Linked DNA regions of Homo sapiens: region 2 is linked to region 1. Evidence: fine-mapped expression QTL. A gene starts in region 1. The other region holds a variant in brackets. All regions are shown on one strand. Distances are from middle to middle. Region 1 holds the start of LINC02319 (long intergenic non-protein coding RNA 2319). Region 2 overlaps PTGDR (prostaglandin D2 receptor).

Evidence for each region. PIP is the estimated chance that this variant, and not a neighbour inherited with it, causes the effect.
Region 2: its variant is the best candidate, but not a certain one, in a credible set for the expression of LINC02319 in whole blood (INTERVAL, PIP 0.60).

What each region holds. Positions count from the first base shown.
Region 1 is chr14:52,118,349-52,130,853 of GRCh38, reverse strand. It overlaps LINC02319 (long intergenic non-protein coding RNA 2319), which reads left to right and starts at 5,357. Exons shown (of 3, transcript NR_187197.1): 1 at 5,357-5,660; 2 at 7,078-7,181.
Region 2 is chr14:52,275,451-52,287,955 of GRCh38, reverse strand. It overlaps PTGDR (prostaglandin D2 receptor), which reads right to left. Exons shown (of 2, transcript NM_000953.3): 2 at 11,232-12,505. It also overlaps the pseudogene LOC100131689. Among named protein-coding and RNA genes, the nearest start is that of PTGDR, 14 kb to the right of the region's middle. The variant C/T (reference allele first, on the strand shown) is at 5,670.

The DNA of each region.
Region 1 (12,505 bases):
AGAGTACAAAAAGTTCATTGATATGGTTTCAGATTCCATATTACTACTAATCTTTCAAAAACTAACATTTTGGTAATTTGTTTTTTTTTTAATTGGCCACAAAAATATCTGAAAAGCTGTTGAAATACCCCTTCTTTTTCCAACTACTTATCTGCGCAAGGCTGGATTTTCTTATGTCAATCGAAACATGTAGGGCCTGGCGCGGTGACTCACACCTGTAATCCCCGCACTTTGGGAGGCTGAGGTGGGTGGATTACAAGGTCAGGAGTTCAAGATCAGCCTGGCCAACATGGTGAAACCCCGTCTCTACTAAAAAATACAAAAATTAGCTGGGCGTGGTGGCAGGCGTCTGTAATCCCAGCTACTTGGGAGGCTGAGGCAGGAGAATTGCTTGAACCCGGGCGGCAGAGGTTGCAGTGATCCGAGATCGAGCCACTGCACTCCAGCCTGGGTGACAGAGTGAGACTCTGTCTCCAAAAAAAAAAAAAAAAAAAAGAAAAAAAAAGAAACACTGTATTACAGCCAACGGAGAACAGGAGCAGATATGAGGCTCTGCTAGCCACTAACCACTAATTCTACCATGTTTTGAATAAACATTCAGGAAAGTAGGTGTCTTGATTTGTTCCCCTGTCATTTAATTACTACAAATAAACATGACTTCCTCCTTTGTCTACAAATGCTCTTCTTTTGAAAACCAAAGATCTTGACCAGGATACTTTTACTAGGCAACCTGTGCTTTGCTAACAGCAATATGATCTATCACTTATATTGTAAATGTTTTTAGTTTACAAATACTACGCATACATTCCACTCAAATACTCTGAAGTCAAGATGGGATTTGCCCAAGGTTGTGTAGTAAACAGCAGCAGAGTCACTAAAACTCTGTTTTAATGACTTAAGGTCATTTGCTGCCCCATGACACCGCTTGATCTGGAAAGTGTCTTCGCCTAGGCAGTTTGCCAGAAGAGGGAGAGAAGAAATTAAAGAGACCAGATAACTTTGCATTTGGTAAAGAACAAATCTGTCTCTCTTAGGCAGGAGTGAAGAGGATGAGATTCTTGTGTGTGGTAGGTTATGGGTCTGAACTACAATTCAGATTCTTTTTAATTTTTTTTTTATTTTTTATTTTTAGATACAGTCTCTCTCTGTTACACAGGCTGGAGTGCAGTGGCACGATCTGGATTCACTGCATCCTCGACCTCCCAAGCTCAAGCGATCCTCTCACCTCAGCATCTGAGTAGCTGGGACAACAGGCGCCACACCACCACACCCGGTAAATTTTTGCAATTTTTGTAGAGATGGGGTTTCACCGTGCTGCCCATGTTGGTCTCGAACTCCTGGACCTAAGCGTTCCGCCTGGCTCGGTCTCCTGAAGTGTTAGGATTACAGGCATCAGTAATTGCACCCGGCCAAACAATTCAGGTTCTTTTTTGTTTTGAGACCGACTCTCAAACTGATCGCCCAGGCTGGAGTGCAGTGGCACGGTCTCAGCTCACTCCAACCTCTGCCTCCCAGGTTGAAGGGATTCTCGTGCCTCAGACTCTTGAGTAGCTGGAGTAAGCCTAATTAATTAATTTTTTTTTTTTTTTGTATTTTTAGTAGAGATGGGGTTCCACCATGTTGGCCAGGCTGGTCTCGAATTCCTGGCCTCAGGTGATCCCGCCTGCCTCCGCTTCCCAGAGTGCTGGGATTACAGGCGTGAGCCACCGAACCTCGCACATTTGTTACATTTGTAGACAAGCGGGACAAAATGAAGGGAGGGAAGCTGTGTATAGAATGAAAAAGGCGATTCTTCAGGAGTTAAGAGTAGTTTATAGAATCTGTCACCAGTGTCTTTTCCTTGTATTCTCTTTTCCCGTTTCACACATCTCTTTCCTAAAGAGTTGGCAACTTTAACAATATTTACATTTGCATGGCCCCTCTCAATTTTCAAAGTATTTTCGCAATCATTGTTCACTAAACCTCAGACAGAGCCTTCCCTCTGTGAGGAAAGCTCACAGAGTAGGTGTTATGGGCTCCTGGTGCCTTGGCAAGCAGAAGTATTTCAGGAGCTAGGCGAGCTGACTCTAGCCTAGTCTGGAGGATGAGCTGGTAGGATGGGGAGAGCCTACCCCAACTCAGCTGCCCACAGCATCAGCACCACCCTCCACTTGGAAAAGAGGAAGCACCAGAACCCAACGTTCCCCCAGACAAAAAGCCCCAGAGTTTCTGATTCAGTTCGTTAAGGATGGGGCCTGGGAATGTGCATTTCTATCACGTTCCCAACAGATGCTACCGGTCTGGGAACTACACTTTGAGAACCACTGCTTTAATTCATACCATATGTTTGCAGAATTAGTCCAAAAACTTGTATGTTAGGTGACACCTGATAAAAGAAAAAGTTCATCTGAATTAAATTTAAAGAAGTTTAATTGAGCAATGAACAATTTGCGAATGGGGCAGCACCCAGAGTCACAGCAGATTCACAGAGACTCCAGCACAACCACGTGGTGGAAGAAGATTTATAGACAAAAAAAGGGAAATGACCTACAGAAACCGGAAGTGACGCACAGAACAGCTGGATTGATTGCAGGTTGGCATTTGCCTTTTTTTTTTTTTTTTTTTTTTTTGAGACGGAGTCTCGCTCTGTCGCCCAGGCTGGAGTGCAGTGGCGGGATCTCGGCTCACTGCAAGCTCCGCCTCCCGGGTTCACGCCATTCTCCTGCTTCAGCCTCCCAAGTAGCTGGGACTACAGGCGCCCGCCACTACGCCCGGCTAATTTTTTGTATTTTTAGTAGAGACGGGGTTTCACCGTTTTAGCCGGGATGGTCTCGATCTCCTGACCTCGTGATCCGCCCGCCTCGGCCTCCCAAAGTGCTGGGACTACAGGCGTGAGCCACCGCGCCCGGCCGGCATTTGCCTTTTTTGAACACAGTCTGAACACTCATCAGTGTGTGAGTAGTTGAAGTATGGCTGCTGGGATTGGCCAAGACTCAGCTATTGTTACAGATGCATACTCCTAAGTTAGGTTTTCAATCTTGTTTATTAAGCTAGGTTACAGTTCATCCCCAAGGACTCAAATATAGAAGAATGGAGTCCTTCTCAGGCTATATTTATTTTGCTTTAACACACCTATGTCCTTGAAGGAACCCATGAAGAGCCCTTTCATGAAGAGTCTGTTTTGCTGATGAGGAAGATGAATAGAAATAAGCAACTTGTCCAAGGCCATGCTGAGAGAAATTTGGTAGAGTCCGTCTGAAGTAGACCCATGATCTTCTGATTCCTTACCAAGGGTAGTTCCTAAGGCTGTTAGTCTTTCACAACTTTCTTTAATAGCAGACAGGGGTGATTAGCAGTTGCTATTTGTGAAATGTCTAAGAGTTGATGCCTGGGATGGCCCTTGAGTTCACAGCTGTGAAAGTAAACCCATTACAACTATTTTTGTTTGTTTGTTTGTTTGTTTGAGATGGAGTCTCACTTTGTTGCCTGGGCTATAGTGCAGTGGCCTGATCTCGGCTCACTGCAACCTCCGTCTCCTGAGTTCAAGCAATTCTCCCCCCTCAGCCTCCCAAGTAGCTGGGACTATAGGCGCACATCACTACACCCGGCTAATTTTTTTTACTTTTAGTAGAGATGGGGTTTCACCATGTTGGCCAGGCTGGTCTTGATCTCCTGACCTCGTGACCTGTCCGCCTTGGCCTCCCAAAGTGCTGGGATTACAGGCGTGAGCCATCGCACCTGGCCCCCCATCACAACTATTTTATGGTCTGGGTCCCAGATTTTATTCACCTCTCTACCCCGGCAGCAACCTACACAGTGTTTCCTGCCTTCTAGGTGTATTAAATAAATACATGTTGGCTGAGCACAGTGGCTCACACCTGTAATCCCAGCACTTTGGGAGACTGAGGCAGGAGGATTGCTTGAGCCGAGTTTGAGACTAACCTGAGCAACATAGTGAGACCCCATCTCTAGAAAATAAGTTGAACATGAGCATGACCTAATAGCAATGAAAAAAGAATGCTCCCTATTTTTATCCATGACACATTATAGGAGATAAAAATGTCCTTCAGCGTACCTGAGATTATCAAGGATAGAAGTACATAAAACATTAAATTTCAGCTCTTTAGAATTATATGCCTAAATGCTGTTGGGTTTCCAAAGATAGTGGATTTCAACCCAATTTAATTTTAAAAAATGATGTTCACGCTAAACAAATAACTGTGCTGGGGTTGTAAGTAAGATCTAGTTTCTCACTTACAGGAATTTAGTGTCAAGTGGGAAGATGCAGAATGTTCGTAATTAACTACAGTATTACATGAAATAGAATGTGTTACCTGCCAAAATAGAGATCTACAGTGCAAAGAGACAAAAAGGTGAGAACTGGCTTTCACTTAGGAGAGTGAATGAAGCATTTGTGGAGGAAATGGTATCTGAACCGAGCCCCTAAAGGGTAGGTGGATCTTGCCTGTTAAAGAGAAAGAATCTTCTGGGCAGAGAAAATCACATGGGAAAAGAGATAGGCACAAAGATCTCTTGGGAGCAGCTACTTTTCCATATGGACTGGGCAGGGCACGCGAGTGAAGTATGAAGTTCAACTGGAATGTCATTGGGAACAGCCAAGGCCGAGAACTATGGAATAGTTTTGAGCCAGGGGAGATATGATCAGGGCTGTGCTGCAGAGAAAGTGGCTGCAGCAGGGAGCAGTGTGGAGGGCAGGGGGAAGAGATAAGAAGAGAGAGGTGAAGAGTTGGAAACCAGTAAGAAGGACACTTCAGAATGTGACATGAGTGAGAGAGTGGGTTTGGGCTCCTCTGTGGTAAACCTCATTTTGAAACTGGTTTCACTCGCTACCCCTGCAATTTAGGCTTTAAAATAAGACTGTCTTTGGACTTTAGTTTTCTCACCTGTGAAAGGAGAGGGTCGATGCTGGCTCAAGTCGGCCATCTCTGATGGTCTGTGATTCTAAGCATCTTATTTGTCATCTGCTACAAATCCAATTCTGGATGGCTGAGGTCACTTCTCATCCTTAAAATTTGCTAACATGAATTTGGTGTTGTTTGGTGCTGTTTGCAATTGGAAATCCCACTGATATGGCCATGATTTGGGGCAGGATTGGGAAGATGAAATCATTGAGTTGGAGTTTATTCCAATTTGCCTTATTTAAAACTTATTTCAGTTATACCAACTTTTCAAGCATGGCTGAAAAGAGAAAATATATCTTGCTGGGTTTACAAACTCGGGGGACAGGAAGTAGGTTTCCAACTCTGAACATGTGGTAGGTTACTTAGGTTACTTCTTGTAAACACAAGGATTTTACATCAGGGGCAGAGGCCAGATTTCATGACTATAACTGGAAATCTTAGGAAACAGATGAATCATATAACCCATCACTTCAACTGGAAAGCAAATGTATCCTACTATTAGAGTTTATCTCGAAATGCTTTGGGAAATCTCAGGGGGCTGGAGGAACCCTCAGCTCAAGCCATTTGTGGGATGTGTTGGTCCGGCATAGACTCCAGCCAAAAGACCAAATATTGCCTTTTGTTGTTTCCTGGAGGGAAGGATATGGACAACAATGATCTGGCCGTGGGGAAGATTCAAGGGAATAAAAATGAATCATCACCAGCCACCAGGAAGCACCAGGAGCTCTCTAAATGGAATGGAGGCCTCCCATACCTTGGGTGGGTGAGGTAAAACAATAGCTGATGAGGGAGACAGAGGCGGAGATAGGAACACTCAGCTTTACTGAGACTGGCAACCATGGTGAAGGAACTAACCAAAAGAAATATGAGCTTGCTGCTGCCCCGAATTTCAAAAGAAATCACTTCGGGGCTGGTTTCCTGTAGTGTCCCTTAGGGAGGTCATTTTTTTTTTTTCTGAGCCACCCCTGGTGATTTCCTCATCAGCTGCCCCAGCTCTAGTATCCACCATGAGCAATGTCATCTGCATAATAATGTGGAGAATGTAACCAACTATTCACTCCATGTCCAAAAGGGCTCTGTGAACTATGAGGCTACAAAGAGCCTCCAACCAGAAGACTGGAGTGCTAATTGCTGCCCTAGGAAGGAGGGTGGAGGGACATCTGCCCTCCAGTTCAGGTCCTCAGCTGCGGCTTTGGGGGAATTTTAGACACACCCTGCTAGTTGCTGGACCCTGGGACATAGGATTTGAGCTGGATTCTTTCTTGTCTTCTTGTGCTTTTTAAATAATGTAATTAATTAATTACCTTTTTAAAGCATCCTTATATCTCTCCATTTATTTTTGTCTTCTTTAGTGTTTCTAAATAAAGTCTTTTTTTAACCTTTAAAAATTAAGGATATTTTCAAACATACAAAAATTAGAGGATAGTATGATGAACCCACACCACCTAACTTCGATATCTGACCAAGTTTGTTTCACTTATGTCCCTTCCAGTTTTTTTCTAGATATGTAAAAACACATTCGAAGTATCATGTCATCTGTAAAGTCTTCAAAATATATTGCTAGCAGATAAGGAGTTTTAACAAATAACAGTACTACTATTATATGTAACAAAACTAGTAATTTTTTCACCTCACGTAATGCCCAGTGATCCACTTTCTCTTGTTGTCTAAAATGTCTTTTTTGAAGTTGGCTTGAGTTGGAAACCAAGTAAGATCTATACAAAATACACGTTAGTTCCTCTCTTCTTTTCATGCTATTCATTCGTAGAAGAAATCAGATAATAGGTTCTGTAGAATTTCGAGCTTTGGCTTATTGCATTCTTGTGGTGTTTTCCCAAGGAGCCCTTGTGTCCAGATGGTGGTCTTTCAATAACATTTCCCAATTTTTTATGATTACAGGGTTTTTGCTTATTTGATTTTATATTTGTATCTTGTTGTTCCTATGCTGAAAAGCTCAGTCTCTATATTAACATAATTACTTGTCAACTTTAGCTTACAACACATATATAGCTTAAAAATAATAGGCAATAAGACTACTGAACCTAGGTTAAGAGTTCTCTGCAATAATTCCATGGAGATAATATCTTCTTTTACATCCCTAAAGATATTTACTATAGTTCCTTTCTGCATTGATGTTTTCCTTTATTTTCTTTATCATTTCTGTTTCACTTTTCAGGCATTGATAAACCTTGGCTGTTGCTTCAAATATAAATGATTCTAGAACATCAGAATAACTAGTAACAGTAAGATTACTCAAATAAGCAAATAAAATCAAAGAAGGTAAGTAAAAATTTTATAATCTAACGTTTGAATTGGACATATCACTATAAACTCATTTTATCTTTTAAAATAAATTTTAAAATGCATATTTCATTGCTCTGTCCCTTGAAAAAGTCTAAAAGGAATGACAACTCAGCAGTAATTAACACAATAAGCATCCAGATTGTGGTTTTTAAATCCTATTGTGTCCAGAATTGGTGGGTTCTTGGTCTCACTGACTTCAAGAATGAAGCCGCAGACGCTCGCGGTGAGTGTTACAGCTCTTAAGGTGGCGCCTCTGGAGTTTGTTCCTTCTGATGTTCGGATGTGTTCAGAGTTTCTTACTTCTGGTGGGTTCGTGGTCTCGCTGGCTCAGGAGTGAAGCTGCAGACCTTCGAGGTGACTGTTACAGCTCTTAAGACAGCGCGTCTGGAGTTGTTCGCTCCTCCCGGTGGGCTCATGGTCTCGCTGGCTTCAGGAATGAAGCTGCAGACCTTTGTGGTGAGTGTTACAGCTTGTAAAAGCAGCGTGGACCCAAAGAGTGAGCGGTAGCAAGATTTATTGCAAAGAGCGAAAGAACAAAGCTTCCACATTGTGGAGAAGGACCTGAGCGGGTTGCCACTGCTGCCTCCGGCAGCCTGCTTTTATTCTCTTATCTGGCCCCACCCACATCCTGCTGATTGGTAGAGCCGAGTGGTCTGTTTTGACAGGGCGCTGATTGGTGCGTTTACAATCCCTGAGCTAGACACAAAGGTTCTCCACGTCCCCTCTCGATTAGCTACATAGAGTGTGGACACAAAGGTTCTCCAAGGCCCCACCAGAGTAGCTAGATACAGAGTGTCCATTGGTGCATTCACAAACCCTGAGCTAGACACAGGGTGCTGATTGGTGTGTTTACAAACCTTGAGCTAGATACAGAGTGCCTATTGGTGCATTTACAATCCCTGAGCCAGACATAAAGGTTCTCCACGTCCCCACCAGACTCAGGAGCCCAGCTGGCTTCACCCAGTGGATCCCGCACCAGGGCTGCAGGTGGAGCTGCCTGCCAGTCCCGGTGCCCTGCGCCTGCACTCCTCAGCCCTTGGGTGGTCGATGGGACTGGGCGCCCTGGAGCAGGGGGTGGCGCTTGTCAGGGAGGCTCGGCCGCACAGGAGCCCATGGAGGGGGTGGGAGGCTCAGGCATGGCGGGCTGCAGGTCCCGGAGCCCTGTCCTGCGGGAAGACAGCTAAGGCCCAGTGAGAAATCGAGCGCAGCGCCGGTGGGCTGGCACTGCTGGGGGACCCAGTACACCCTCTGCAGCTGCTGGCCTGGGTGCTAAGCCCCTCATTGCTCGGGGCCGGCAGGACCGGCCAGCTGCTCGGAGTGCGGGGCCCGCCAAGCCCACGCCCACCTGGAACTCCAGCTGGCCCGCAAGCGCCGCGCACAGCCCCGGTTCCCGCTCCGTGCCTCTCCCTCCACACCTCCCTACAAGGTGAGGGAGCTGGCTCCGGCCTTGGCTAGCCCAGAAAGGGGCTCCCATAGTGCAGCGGTGGGCTGAAGGGCTCCTCAAGTGCCGCCAAAGTGGAAGCCCAGGCAGAGGAGGCGCCGAGAAGGAGCGAGGCCTGTGAGGACTGCTAGCACGCTGTCACCTCTCACTATTCCCAACTAACAGGAACTAGAGCTCTTTAGAAAAATGCTTGATTCCAAGTCTAGGGCAAAAATTAAAAGGTGAGTCTGGGACATTGTTTTGTGTCAAAGAAGAAACAAGAAAGCCTTTCAAAACAAATGGGGCTGTAGTTATCCAATGGGTTCTTCCTGCCTGCTGCAGAGACAAAACCCATTCACTGAGACCACAGTATTGCAGTAAAGAAGGAGTTTAATTAATACGAGGCCGGCCACGTAGAAGAACTGGAATTATTCAAGTCAGTCTCCTGAAGGCTTGGAGGTTAGAGTTTTTCAAGGAGAGTTTGGTGGGCAGGAGGCTAGGGAATGGGAAATGTTGATTAGTTGGGGATGCAGTCATAGGAGCCTGGAAAAATGGTCCTTATGTGCTGAGTCAGCCTCTGGATGGGGGCCACAGGACCATTTCAGTCACGAGTCATGGTCTGGGTAGAGTCAGTTGGTTGCCATAAATGTAAAAGTCTAAAAACATCTCAAAAGGCCAGTCTTAGGTTCTACGATAGTGATGTTATCTACAGGAATAATTGGAGAAGTTACACATATTGTGACCTCTGGAACAATGGCTGGTTGTTGTTTAACTATGCCTGTATCTTAACCAGAATTCAGGCCCTTCTCATAATCCTAATCTTGTGGTCTTCCGTTATTTTTACAAAGGTGGTTTAATTTTGGGAGTGGCTATTATCATCCTTGCTTTAAGGTTAAACTGTAAACTAAAATCCTCCCAAAGTTAGCTTGACCTATGCCCAGCAATGACAGCTTGGAGGTTAGAAGCAAGATGGAGTCAGCTATGCCAGCTTTCTCTTACTGTCATAACTTTGTAAAGGCAGTTTTAGGGTCATATCAGAAAGACACAAGAACTGCCATTAAGGGGCTCCCACTGGCCAAAAATGGGATAATTTGTGTGTGAGAAAGAATTAAAATACATCAGATATCTAAAAATTCATGAGTATTTAATGACTTAAAATTCCTCCTTGGTCATCTTTGGAGGCTGCTAAAATTACTCAAAAATGTATTGAAAAGGGAAATATAAAGGATTTATTCTGCCTTTCTTGTATGTACTATATTTAAGGGTAACCACATTGTTGATGAGGGGAAGCTCTTTATAGGATAATTCCAATGAATAAATGCAGAAGAAATGATAGAATTAGAAAATCATCATTTTGCAATCCCTATAAAATGAATCCAGGCAACAATTATGAGTCGCTTTTAACCCGTTTGCTAATACAGGTTAAAAGTTGACAAAGAACTTCATAATGGAAATATTAGGCTTCTCTCATCAAAACCCAATCACCAATCTTGGTATCATTAAAAGTACAACTGGACCATATAATGATGTTGTGCAGTAGAAAAAACATACCACCACTTAGAAGTATTTTTGCCTAAAAATCTTATCAAGTCAGTAGGTTTAACTACCAGTTTAAAGAAAACAAAAGAAATAGAACAATTTAAACAAGACTATGAAGATGCAATAAACCAAATCCTGAATGAGATATTCTACAAACCAAACAATCCAGTTTCTCCAAAAAATAATTGCATATAAAAAGAGGGATAAATTTTTAGAGAATAAAAGATACTTAAGAGATGGAATAACTGATGTCTAGACCTTGTGTGGATCCTGATTTAAACAAACCTACTATAAAATACATCTTTGAGATAGAGAAATTTGCACATAGACTTAGTATTCAATTATATAAAGAAGTTATTATAAGTTGTATTACTGTCATAATGGCACGATTGCCAGTTTTTAAAAAGTTCGTATTGGTAAAAGATGAATACATATTGATGTATTTACTGGTGAGTTGATATGATGTCCAGGATTTGCTTTAAAATACTCCAGGAAAAAAAAATAGGAAGAGGAGAGGTAAAAAAGAAAGAATAGCTGTTTTTTTAAGTGGCAGACTGCTGATTAATTGTTGAAATGGGGTAACAGGTGCATGTGAGTTCCTTGTACTATTCTTTCTAAGTTTGAAAATGTCTATGTTTTTCAAAATAAATCATAAAGGTTTTCAAAAATAGAGAAAATAGTAAATTCCTTGTGAATAATTAAAAATCTAAATTATTTCTAAATAATAATAATTTAAAAACAATGGAAAAAATAAATCTTAGTAATCATAGGGTATGGCAAAAAAGGAAACTGAATATTCAAAACAAATGAAAAGAGAAAAATTATCTCATGAAGTAACCATCTTTTCTATAGGATGATTTATCTTTATATTGTCACTACCAATTATCTAGAACCCAGGAACCCTCTCTTCCAGGTGACTCTGGTAGTACACAGACAAATTCCAATTTTTTTGGACTTTTTAAAGATGTTCCTTCTGTTTATATTTGTAATGTCATCACCACTTAATCCATGCCATTATGAAATTGCCCCATGATTAACATGATTTGTGGATTTCAGTTTGTTTAATATGGCTACATATTAGGTTTCTTTTTCTTGATGTCACTAAAGGAGGCACCCAAATTGTGTTTGCATCACAGTGTTGGTTGGGGTACAAATCATTCCTTCCAAGCTGGGCTGTTTCCTCTCCATTGGTGGATCCTGGTTTTGTCACTCCATCCCTGACAGCAAATTAGGGACCCATTTTTCGCTCAAGCCTATTACTTATTAGAGTGACCCCTCATCTACTTACTACAGTGACTATCAGCAGAAATGAATTTTTTAGTTTCTGAAAATGAGCCCATTTCACAACATAGCTAACAACTAGCCTGATTCAAGAATTCCAACTCTCCCAGTACAGACTTCTCCTTCTCTTCAGAGGCAAACGCTGGGGGTTGGGGCAGGGCGGGAACAACTGAGCCTTGTGCTCTGCCCTCAAGGTCAACAGATTGAATGTGGCCTTGTGTGTGTTGTGAATGTACAGTACATGACATCATGCATATTCAGTGGGCTTTTCCAACCGCCAGTCTCACTAATGATTAAAATTTCTTTTTAGAAAGGCACCCTTCTTTGGCTTTTGAGATTATTTGACTATCTTGGTACTCTTACCTCCTTTTCTGTCTTAGCCATGATTCTTCTTCATCCTGACTTGCCCCTTTTTCTCTCTCCTCCCCTTTCTCTTCCTCTCCTGCTCTCTCCTCTGCTTGCCTTTTCTCTCTTTTCCTTTCCCCTCCCCATGCCTGTCCTCCTCTACCTTTTCCTTCCTCTCCTCAATCTTCCTTCCTCTCTTTTTTCCTTTCCATTTTCCATACATTAAACCAATAGAGATACCTGACCTCAACTATCAATTTTAAGTGGATAAATTTAAACCTATACCACTTTACTCCAGTGCCAATTCTATACCTTCCATGGACTGTGAAATATTTATACTCATATATCCCATTATTAAATCCAAAGTATTAGGTTGGTGCAAAAGCAATTGCGGTTTCTGCCATTGAAAGAAATGGCAATTTCTTTAATTAATTTGCATCAACCTAATAAAACTTATCTCCCGAAAAGATTCCCCTCCCTTTTCTTTGACTTTGTAGATGACTTCCGTTCTCCAGACTTGGAGCCGTGTAGTCATCTCTTATTCTTTCCTTAACCGCTCTTTTGAGCTAGGCAATGAATTCTATCCCTTCAACCTTTAAACCACATCCTAGCCCATTCCTCCCTCCATTTTTGCCAGTACCACGGTGGTCTGGGCCCTTGTCATGTGAATTATAATAATGGGCCCCTTCATGCTTCTGCCCTCTATACATTTTTC
Region 2 (12,505 bases), 160 kb before region 1:
CTTAACATTTTATTCATTCAGCAAATGAATATATTTAGAAACAAACATTTATTGAATAAATGAGTTATATTTTCATGTTGCCTCATAACCTTTACATCTATCATCTTTAACAGCTGCATAATGCTTCATTAAGAGGATGACATAATTTACTCAAGCAAGTGCCTTCTCAGTTTAGTAGTAGTAGTTAAAAGCTCAGGCATGAAGCCACAACTGAATTCAGATCCCAACTATGTAACTTACCAGCTACGTGAGCTTGTGCAAGATACTTTCCTTTTTTTTTTTTTTTTATTATACTTTAAGTTCTAGGGTACATGTTCACAACGTGAGACATTTCTTTAAAATATTTCTGGAGTATTTGGCTTTACTTAATTCAACCAAATTATCTCCCAATTCTTCAAAAGCCTGTTTTGACTGTTCTTCATTACCACACTGAATGTAACACTGGATCACATGAGTTGAATCATTTGCAAATGCAATTGTTTGTTTGTTTGAGACAGAGTCTTGCTCTGTCCCCTAGGCTGGAATGCAGTGGCACCATCTCAGCTCACTGCAACCTCTGCCTCCCAGGCTCAAGGAGTCTCATGCCTCAGCCTCCTGAGTAGCTGGGATTACAGGAATGTGCCAACATGTCCAGCTAATAAATGCAATAGTTTTAATTTTCCCTTGAATCAACTTCTGCAAGTCATTCATTAACTTTACTCTTTTTTCTTTGTCAGTCTTTTCTTCTTAAAGTCTTCCAAATCTGCTTTGCCCACACAACAGTGTCATAGTTACTTTTATCACTGAGTTGCCTGCTTTGCTTCAGTTCTTTCTTTTTCTTTTTGAAGTCATCCCATTTGGGTTTCTTGGCTGCTGATTCACCACTTTTGCCATCTGGCTGGAGTTTCCTCTTCTTGTTGAATTTATTTGCTGGCTGGAATTTGTTCCTTGGTGCTTTGTCCCATTGTTGCTTATTCTTCAACTGCTTCGCACCCTTTCCCCTGGTTTTGTGACACTTTTCTCAAAGTTCTTAGATGTGGCTTTAGATTCACCTTCCTTAGCAACTTTTCTTGGAAATGTCTTTGAAGAACCAGAATCACCGTGTTTATGAAATCAGTTTTATTTTTTTGTGATGCCTTTGTACTCTTTCCTGTGAATTGTTGTTTCCCCTTTGACTTCCACCATAGCAACTTGCACACATGGGGCCGACCACATATTGACTTTTTAACCATAAAACTTACTGCCTTAAGTTCTGCTTAGCCTAATATTACTTTATGTTCACATTTGAAGTATAAATCTTTGTTCCATTTTTATCTTTAGCTCTTTTAGCAGGGGGCTGTCATTTTTCTTTTGGATGTGCCAATTGTCAATCAAGGAAAATGACCAGGGCAAGTCCCATTCATTTTTGGAGGTTTATTTGCCAGAGTTAAGGACACACAACCGGGAAACAGGTCTATGCCTTTCTCTGAAGATGATTTTGAGGGCTTCAATATTTAAAGAGGAAAGGGCAGGATATTGAGAAATACCCAATGTTCATGTGAGAGGGGTAGGAGAAAATAGCCATTCCTGCCTTGGTCTGGCTCAGTGAATCTGCATTTTTACATAAGATTAATGTAGACAATAGGGCAGAGGAAACAATGTGTGCAGAGGGATGACTTTGAGTTCTGTCCTATGTTCCCCGCAGCTGTGAAGAAAAGCTATCAATTCACATTTGCATGATGCACTTTAACAGAAATGCTTTAGGGTGAAGATCTTGGGGACCACAAGGAATTTCCTTGTGAGGGAGGTATGTAGCTTTTCATCTTGTAGCCATCTTATTTAGGAACCAAAATGAGAGGCAGGCTTGCATAACCCAGTTCCCAGCTTGACTTTTCCTTTTGGCTTAGTGAGTTTGGGGTCCCAAGATTTATTTTCACATTTCCCCCATTTTTTCTTTAAAATCATTTGGAGAAAGCATTTTAGAAGGAAAATGTGTCTCTGGTCTCAGCTTGCTTTTTTCTTTTTCTTTTTTTTTTTGAGCTGGTCCTTCATTGCTAGGATGGTTTATTCCCAGAAATTCAGGTCCCACCTTGCTAGGAAGGCTCATTCTTAGCAGGTCGTGCCCCATGAAGATTAAAATAGGGGGAGGAAAGAAGGTAAGAGGAAATTAAAAATATAGGGATCTAGACCAGATATACAGCAAAAGGGAAAGCAAACCTGGAAGCTGGGTCAGGCTATGCTACTGCCTCCTCAATTAGAGCAACTCTTTGGGCAATCATTATTCTAGCCCTTTCAGTTGATGACTAATCTGGACATACCATAATAACATTGTAAGCAAAAACAGGACATGACACAAATTATTATTATTATTATTATTGGAAGCAATAGCTTCTGCCACCAATTTCTCCAGGTCACAATACAATTTCTCCAGGTATCCACCCCATATCTCTTGTAGTGTTTGGCCATTGGTCCTTGGGGTCGTTTCTTCGTTCCAAGCATAAAGGAGCATTTTGGCTGAGTTGGCCAAATGAAGGGATGAACCAGATAAACCCATTCCAAATTTGCATTATCCCATTTTGAAAATGGGCTGTTGTTTGGGGCATGGTTGCCACCTTCTCTTTTAGTTGGGGGAATGCTAAAGTGAGAGCTGGTGAGCTGGTCCTTTCCCTTGAAAATCTTTTCCCATGTCCTTGCTCTTGAGTGTTTTTAATGGGGAAATTATATATATTTAGTCTTTTGTTATGCCAGCACTAAGGATACGAAACCATTTCTGTGATGTAATAAATTTTGGTATTCTAGCTAGTCTTGACCTTGTAAGGGAAATACCCACCATGGCAGGCTGGAGCCACTGGAAAGAGGCATGAGTCTGCATATCACACAGGCATCCTTTTATAATCTGTCTGCATAATCCTGAGCCCATTGTAGAAACAGGTTTGTCTTATGGGCAACAATGGGTGACAGTGGCAAGAGGTTTTAGAGACATAGGGTAAATAGGAGCAAGGTTGTGAAATTCATTTTAACTACTAAAAGGACATTAAATCAGACAAGGCAAATGCCCTGTTCTGCACAAGATAGCAGTTGCCAGTATCTCTAGGACAATAATTGTAATAGCTATCATACAATACACATAGGTGTTCTTTTGTATACAGGCCTGGTCCTGTGTCTTGGGTTTCATAGGTGTTCTTTTGTATACAGGCCTGGTCCTGTGTCTTAGGTTTAAGCAGTCCACAACAGCTATGGTCTGCTCCTAGTCCTGGATTGAAGTTCAATGTTAATGAGCTGCAGGTGAAGATCCTTGGTAGGAGTTACAGCCTACTCAGGAGGTTGTGCCTTTTTAAGATGAGAGGTGTAAATCCATGAGTTTATACTGTCTAGTTTTTGCAGCACATGGATTTGTTAATAGTATTTGGTATGGCTCCTTCCATTGGGGTTGAAGGGAGTCCTTTATTAAATGTCTTTTCCAATAGACAAAGTCTTCAGGCTGCAGATCATAACCAGGAACCTTGTCTTCAGGGAGTGGACTATGAAAGGAATTCTTTACCAAATCTTGGCTTTTGTAAAGATGACAAATGAGTCCCTTATAATACTGCAATATATCTCTCTTGAGAAAAGTTGGGTTGGTTATTTTGGTTCCCATACACATGGGCCTTCCTGTTATAATTTCATAAGGGGATAGTTGATGTTTCCCAAGGTGGACCAGAGGGTAAGAAGCACCAGGGGAGTGCTTTAGGCCAACAGAGGTGAAGTCCATTTATGAACTTAGCCAATTGTGTTTTAATTATTCCATTGGTCCTTTCCGCCAGCTCTGAGGACTGGGGATGGTAGGCACAATGGAAATGTTGAAATATGGGCCAAATTTCACAAATATTTTGAATAACTTGACCAGGAAAATGAGTTCTTCTATCACGTAAAGTTCACAGTGGACTCCCCACAGTGGAATAATTTTTTCTAATAAAGTTTTCCAACTGCCATCGCTGTTGCTTGCCTGCAGGGAAAAGCTTCAACCCAATGGGAAAACATGCAGACCATTACTAAGACATGTAACCTTGAGAGGATGGCGGCTGGATAAAATCAAGCTGCCATACCTCAAAAGGTCCAGCTGGAAGGGGAAAATGACCCTGGGCCTCATGGAGGAGCTTCCGTGGATTATCCTTAGGACAAATAGCACACTGGGAATAAACCTTTTGTGCCACTGTGGAGGATCGTTTCCAGTAACATTGTTTACACTAGGATATACTTTTATCTGGATTCCATCGTGTCAGATTATTAACACATTCCTTAAGGGGCACCTGACATCCCATTGGAATAATGGTTTATTATTAAGTCCATACAATATTTTAGTTTCAGGAGACAGGTATTCCCCTGTCTGTTTCCAAGTGGATTTCTCTTTTGTTGGGGCTATACTCTAGGTTTCCTTCAACATGTTTTTAAGTGTTTCAGGCTTTATGATCATTTTTTTGGATTGGGTCTGGTGGCTTGAATGCTGCTTTTTCAGCTGTAGCAATAGCAAATTTGTTATCTCCACTTTTAGTGGTGTCCAATGTAGAGTGACCTGGGATTTTTACAACTGTCAAAAGTTTTGGTTGAGAATAGTTTCTAACAGCTCTGAGAGTTGGTTGTCCATTTTTTATGGGTTGCCCTGAGGAGGTTAAATATCCTCTCTCCTTTCACATTCCGAAGTCCTGAGCAACTCCAAATGCTTAGCAGGTGTCAGGGTATGTTTGCAGCCTTGTCTTTTGCTAATCGACAAGCTTGAGTCAGGGCAATCAATTTGGCCCCTTCAGCTGATTTGGCTTGAGGAAGAGGACCAGCTTCAACTACCTCTAGTAAAGAGACCACAGCATATCCTGCTCTAAAATTTCCATCCCCATCCTCTTAAATAAGACCCATCTGTATACCATTCTATCTCAGCATTATCCAGTGGCATCTCTTGTAAGTCTGTCCCAGAAGTGAGAAGTTGGTCAGTCATCAGAACATAGTCATGAGGGGTTTCGTCAGAAGGACCAGGCGAGAGAGTGTAAGTTAATTATTTGGAGCATATTATCTCAGTCAAAATGTATAAAATAATCTAAAATTGATTCATTTCGGTTCTGGTGGCATTGCTGGATTTTATCCCAATCCACAACCCTTTGGAATATTGAAGAAATGGTATTTAACAGAGCAGTTGCTCATTCCCACACATCTTTGTGTCTGTGTTCTCGACTTCTGGGGGCTGGTTATTGTAGCTCTATTGGGCCTTCAAGGGTTAAGTCTGCTACAGGGTCTGACCACTGTACTTTGTCCAGCTATTCCTTAGCTTTAGCTTCCGAGACCAACATGTGTGCCAGCTGTTAGAGGTCTGAATGGCCTGGGTCATAGGTTCTGATAATGAATTCAAATTCTTGGGCAAACTCAATTGGATCTTATGGGGGCCCAGAAATTCTTTATGCCCTGCAACTCAGCCTTTGACCAGCGTTGGTAGACAATCACCGGGGTTCCCCTATGTGTTACCGGTTGTTCCCAAAACAGGGTGATCATGAGAGATGGCCCTGCAGGGTCCCCCTTTTCCACATCTTCCAGATGAGAGGCTGCCACTGGCACTGTCAGGGAATTGTCAGGAGGTAGGGTCTTGGAAGTTAGACTCCCTACTGCCTTCTGTTGAGTGAGTGGTGTACAAGGAGAGGAAGATGTTAAATTAGAACATGCAGGAGAAGGAGGGAACAGATCTGGTC[C/T]GGGAAGTTCAGAGAGGTCAGGGGTAAAGTGGGGGTGTAAGTGGAGGTGGGGAGGTGCCACAGGGAAGTAAGGGATTCTGGGGATTTCTTTAAGAGAGATAGAACTTTAGAGAGTCCTTGGTTAGCATTTCTAAGTTGTTTGTTGGCTTATTGTAAGGACATGAGGTGATCTTCCCCCCATTTGCTACTCTCTAGGTACCATTGAAAGTAGCTCTCCCATTCTGGTTGTTTAGTTTTGTGCCTGCGTTTTGCATCCTAGTTCACAGGTACACTAATTTGGGCATCTCAGAAGATCCCCATCTAGGCCTCTGTAGGTTAGAATCTGCCTTGATTATAGTGGTCCACTTGATTAAATATTTGCATGACAATTCACCATAAGTGTTTTTGCATATACCTGGCCAGAGTTTCTAAGGGTGGAACTTTGTGTTCCACAGCTGTGGGGGTTTCAGCCAACTTAAAGGGCTCCTTCCACATAATTTAGAGTTTTCCTTCAGATTTGACCAAGTCGGAGGGTTTGTTGGATCCAAAGTGTGCTGCTTGGGGACCTAGCTTTTCAGGGCCGTTACTCGCTGAACTGGTATCGTGGCTACCTGGCACAGTGTGTCAGGGGCTCAAGGCATGGGAGATCAGCTCCTTATTTGCACCTGCTAGCTGAGATTACACCCTAAGTACGTTCTTCTGAGGGGAAATCCTACTCAGAGCCGTTGCACATCTTAGGGAGTGTTTCTTCCAGACACCCTCATGTAATTCTCAGTTGCCTAAGAAAGGCTGAGAAGGGCGAGCTCTTATTTCTTTGGAGAGGAAAATTCCATACTATAAGCTAGAGGGTTTAGAGTTGGCCAAATCCAATAAGAGAAGGACTGAAGCATACAAAAAAACACCTAACAAGACAGAAACAAGTAAATAAGACATCTAAGCAAAACGAACAGCAATCACACAAATTATACAATTTGAGTGCTCTAAATGTAAGGAGAAATTAAGACCAGCTGGTTGTTAACAGTACCTTTAGTTATTAAAGAGAATTTGCAAGACAGATTCCCAACTCACCTCCTTACCTAGTGATGAGACTCAAGCTGAAGACTGTTCTCCACTGATGAAGAAGCAGACAAGCTTGCCTTCCCTGATGGAAGCAAGCAAAAACTCCCAGAAAAAAAAAAAGAGGTGTTTTTTTTTTTTTTTTAAACATCAAATTAAACCTCAGAGCCCCAACTTCCTGCAGGGAGGAGGTCCCAGACCTCAACAAATTGTCTTATTGGTTTGGGCTATAAAGAGCCCAATCTGGTACCAATAGGAGAGCTGCTGCAGGCCAGGGCCACCTTCACTCAGGATCCCTCCGTGGTCAATCAAGGAAAATGACCCAGGAAAATCTCAATCATTTTTTGAGGTTTATTTGCCAAAGTTAAGGATACACACCTGGGAGATAGGTCTATTCCTTTCCCCATAGATGATTTTGAGGGTTTCAATATCTAAAGGGGAAAGGGAAGGATATTGAGAAATACATAATTTTCATGTGAGAAGAGGGTAGGGGAAAACAGTCATTCATGCCTTTGTCTGGCTCAGTGAATCTGCATTTTTACATATGTAGATAATGCAGACGATAGAGCAGAGGAAACAATCAGATATGCATTTGTCTCAGGTGGACAGAGGGATGACTGAGTTCTCTCCTATGTCCCCACACCTGTGGAGAAAAGCTATCCATTCACATTGCCATGATGCACTCTAACAGAAACACTTTAGGAAAAAGGTCTTGGGGCCCCCAAGGAATTTCCGTGTGGACAAAATGTGAAGGAGGTATGTAGCTTTTCGTATTTTAGCCATCTTATTTAGGAACCAAAATGAGATGCAGGTTGGCGTGACCCAGTTCCCAGCTTGACGTTTCTGTTTGGTTTAGTGAGTTTGGGGTCCCAAGATTTATTTTACTTTCACACAATCATAATCAGTAAATCATTGTACTTTATCTTTTTCATCTAATTGGGAACTCTGGGTGTTTTTTAATTTGGGGGGAATAAAAAGTATTTTCTAAATTCATTATGAATTGTGTGTCATGACAGTTATTGTTTCCATATTCTATTTTGTAGTGATAAGAAATTGATGCTGGCAAGCTACCAACTTTGTTTGCCCAGGTGTTTATACAACGCACCGCTAGACTAATCTTAAACATCAATTATCGCTGATTTGGGGCTTTATTGTTTTAAAATCTATAACTCATACTTTAGTACTTTGTAACATTTGCACTACACTGTATGATTTTTACCTTCTAGTTTGTCCTGTGTTTCCAATTAGATTCCAAGTGCTTACTCAGTTTAAGATCATCATAGGACCCTATGCTTTGCCTAAAATATACTTTCATTTGAGCTTTGACTTGACTGTATTTTTATTGCCTTCCCCGGTTGAGGCATTTTAGTAGGAAAAAAAAAAAGCTTATATCTTCTCCCTGTATTTTTAACCAGAGCATGATCGGTTCTAAACACATTCATTGCAATTTTTTTTTTAATTTTATTATTATTATACTTTAAGTTTTAGGGTACATGTGCACAACATGCAGGTTTGTTATGATTGGACTTACTCCTGAGTTCGTGCAGTTTGTATAAAAATATCTGGAAGACTAGAATGTTCACCTCACTGTTATCAGGCGAGATCTGCTGATTCATTCCACTGAATTTGGCTATTGTGAAACGGTAGAGAGAGGAAGCCTAATTATAGTACCACCCATCCTATGTGCTCAGCTTTCCTCCACCTAGAGTCTGGGAACACCCAGACCAGCAATCCTAGCCTCACTGAAGAAAATAATTAAAGAGCAGGCCAGTCAACACTGTTCTAATAAGACAAAGTTGTTTTTACAATGTTAACATTGCCTAATTAACAAACTTTTTATGTTGTTAATTTCATCATGTACGAGTTGCTATTTCCTGGATAAAAATTGAAACATACATGTTAACTTACATAATGTCGATAACAGTGGGAAATAATATAGAGCAAAAATATTTTCTCCTACGTGTACTATTTTCACCTTTGGTTGGCCTAAGAGAAAAATCCTTATATGGTGATATGAGAACATTCTTCATCAGATACAGAGGAATCTTTAACCAAGCATACAGCAGCCTCTTATTGAATAGACGTACATTTTAGGACTATCATGAGAGAGAACGCGTTTTATTCAATATATTTATAGTATATTTATAGCTCTTCTACAGTATATATGTGAATTACTAGGAGAAATGAGAAAAAAATAGGTGACTATCTAGTCCTCAAGGATTTTAATGCCTGGAAAGAAAGATTCAATGTATAATATTTTCCTGAAAATATACAAAAAAGTCAAATTATGAAAGTTTAAAAATAGCTTTACGTATTTCAATGGAAATTTCTATCCTATAGAGAGTTAGAAAATATTCAATCCCTAATGAAAGCTCACTTTAAATATAATCTTTGACAATATTTTCATAAACAAAGGCTCTTTAGTTTATCTTCCTTCACAACAGCATCAGGCTTAGTGCCCAATTAAATGTCTGCAGCAGTCCAAAGAAATATCATTGCCGAGGGTAGTATCTTTACCTCCAAGTGAGCAAGACAGGTCTCATCACTGCTATCAGTGATGAACTTGGGAATCAGTAATGGCTGCCAGTATTGAAAGATATATTATTTTTTTTCTTTTTTTTAAAACTTTATTATTATTATACTTTAAGTTTTAGGGTACCTGTGCACAACGTGCAGGTTTGTTACATATGTATACCTGTGCCATGTTGGTGTGCTGCACCCATTAACTCGTCATTTACATTAGGTATATCTCCTAATGCTATCTCTCCCAGCTCCCCCCACCCCACAACAGTCCCCGGTGTGTGATGTTCCCCTTCCTGTGTCCATGTGTTCTCATTGTTCAATTCCCACCTATGAGTGAGAACATGTGGTGTTTGGATTTTTGTCTTTGCGATAGTTTGCTGAGAATGATGGTTTCCAGTTTCATCCATGTCCCTACAAAGGACATGAACTCATCATTCTTTATGGCTGCATAGTATTCCATGGTGTATATGTGCCACATTTTCTTAATCCAGTCTATCATTGTTGGACATTTAGGTTGGTTCCAAGTATTTGCTCTTGTGAATAGTGCCACTATAAACATACGTGTGCATGTGTTTTTATAGCAGCATGATTTATAATCCTTTGGGTATATACCCGGTAATGGGATGGCTGGGTGAAATGGTATTTCTAGTTCTAGATCCCTGAGGAATTGCCACACTGACTTCCACAATGGTTGAACTAGTTTACAAAGCTGTAACTTTGCTGAGAACATTACAGATAAAAACACTGTGGAAGTTCAGGTGTGAGGGATTATCTGCAACTGAAAGGATCTGAGAATCAGAGGTCAGAGAAACATAGTCTATCACATATTTACTTGTCTTTTTTTGGTATTTTTCTTTTCTTTTCTTTTTTTGTTTTGTGTAGAGCAGTGGTTCTCAAATATTAGCATGCATGAGAATCACCTGGAGGGCATGTTAAAGCCCAGATTGCTGGCCCCACCCAAGAGATTCTGATTCAACAGGTCTGACGTGGAGCTGGAGAATTTGCATTTGTAGTAAGTTTCAGGTGTTGCTACTGCTGCTTGTCCAGGACTACTGATTATTCTCTGCAAGAGAATGCTAGAGTGGAATTACTGGAACAACAGCAAAGAACGCTTTAGGTTCTTGATACACTGTTGGGTTGCTATCAAGAAAGGGTATACACATTTACGAACTCGCCAGGGGAACATGAATGTTCTTCTCTGAATAACCTCTGTTATTGAGAGTCATAGGTTTTTTGTTGTTGTTGTTGCTTGTTGTTGATATACAATTTGGTTTTATTTTTGCATTTCCTTGATTAGGCTGAATATTTTTCTACATTTATTAACCATATGTATTTTCTCTTATGTAAACTTTCTCTGTGTTCTTTTCAGTTTTCAGAGTCAAAATTCCTACTCGTTTTCAATACTTGACTTTCAATGCATCTTCTTCCTGTGAAGTTCTCCTGACAACCCTACACGTGGTCCCTAGTTTGGGCCTCCTCTTCTAATAGTAAATGCGTACTCGCAATACTATGGAGAATTTCTATGCTGTATCCTAACTGTTGACATTCCTCTCTACCCCAGTGGACAACGAGCAACTCATGAACCATGATTGAGTCTTATTTTTATTCCTTTCCTCAGCCCCTAATCAACTGCTTGGCACAAGGTCTCTGTAAATTATTTAATGAATTAATGAATAAATCTATACAGATTACCGAAGAGTTGGTTTTAACTCAACACAGACTTCATCCAGATGGTATATCTACATTTTGTATGAAACAAAAAGGAGCACTAGGTCCTTAGGTGAGTCTAAGGACTTACCTAAGCTTGTTTAAAGTAATGTAAAGTAATGAAATGTAAGTAAAGTAATGAAAGCTTGTTTAAAGTAATGTAAGTGTTAATCGGACAGTATATAAAAATCCACACTAGGAAACTGCCAGACAATGAAATATTGCTGGCAACTGTCTACTAAAAAGAAAGCCAAGCCCTTTTCTTTCATTTAAAGAAAAGTAATTTCCTCTGCAAAATACTATAAAATTATATTTATTGATTCATCTGGGGCCTTTTCAAATTAACTGGACAATTATCCTAACACACCTCTCCAAAAAAAGAATACAAAAAACATGTTCTTCCTCTGACAATAAAACATGCATGTACTTACACATTGAAGGTACAAACAAAAGTTAAATTTCAAAAACAACTGTATTTTTTTCATCATGTCATACTGTTAAATCATACTCCTTGTATGCCTAATTTGGCTTTTTCACAGTTTTGCTATACCAAAAAATTACATAAAAAATTACCCAGCTTTATATTATCTCAGATACTGGAAAAAACATAAGTGAAACAAAGGAGGTTGCTGCTCAGTTGGAAATAAATAAACATGAGTACTCTTATATTTGGAAGGGACTTCTGGCTGGAGGTCTTGAGATCACGCAAATGCAGCAGGCTTTGCACCTTGGAGTCCTGAGATTGTCAGATACAAAGGAACTCCAGAGATGCTGAAACCCCTTGAACCTCCCCAGCTGTTCTTTTACCAAAGGTGAAAGCTCTTACCTGCAAGCTGGGTTTAGAGTCTCCGCTTCAGTTGCAGCTGCGTTTCCTCCACTTTTCCCTTTCAGTCATCATATTGCTGACCCTTGAAAACTTTTAAATTACTATTAAAGTGCTCAGTTGTGCTCCTTTTCGGCTATATGCTGCTCCAGTTTTGAAGGTGTAATTTGAAGTAAAATCTTGGAACCTAAGATCTTACCGTCTCCACGGACAGCAGAATACGGCTGTAATAGGTAGCTGTTAAGGTAGATGTTAAGGCCATTGTTACTATCGTCAACTGAGGCTAAGTCCTGGGTGGGCTTTTTGCTGTGCCAAATGCCCCCCTGTGCCACACAGTCAAACAGTAAACATGGCTCTACAGTGAGTCACACACTGGTTTTCAAAGAAGCATAAATCCTTCCACTAAAGAATCCATTGATAGGATAATTCTTTTATAAAATGGAGGTTCTAAAAACTGAAAGAACATTTTGCAACCCACCCCCAACTTTTGATTCCTACTGACACCCTTGACTCAATACAAAAGAAACTGGATTTCAAAAGATAAAAACGAATTTTTGCTTCTTTGGGTTGTGGGCTATAGTCATATCTTGCTCTGCATCTAGTTACAGCTTCAGGTCTCCACCTGAGGCAGCAAGTACTCCCCGATGGTGGCTGGGGAAGCCCCTCCAACTGCCTGACCTGGTCATATTTCCCACCTCACTTCTCTGAGGAACATCATAATTCAGGCTATGCTTAGATCAATTGGCAA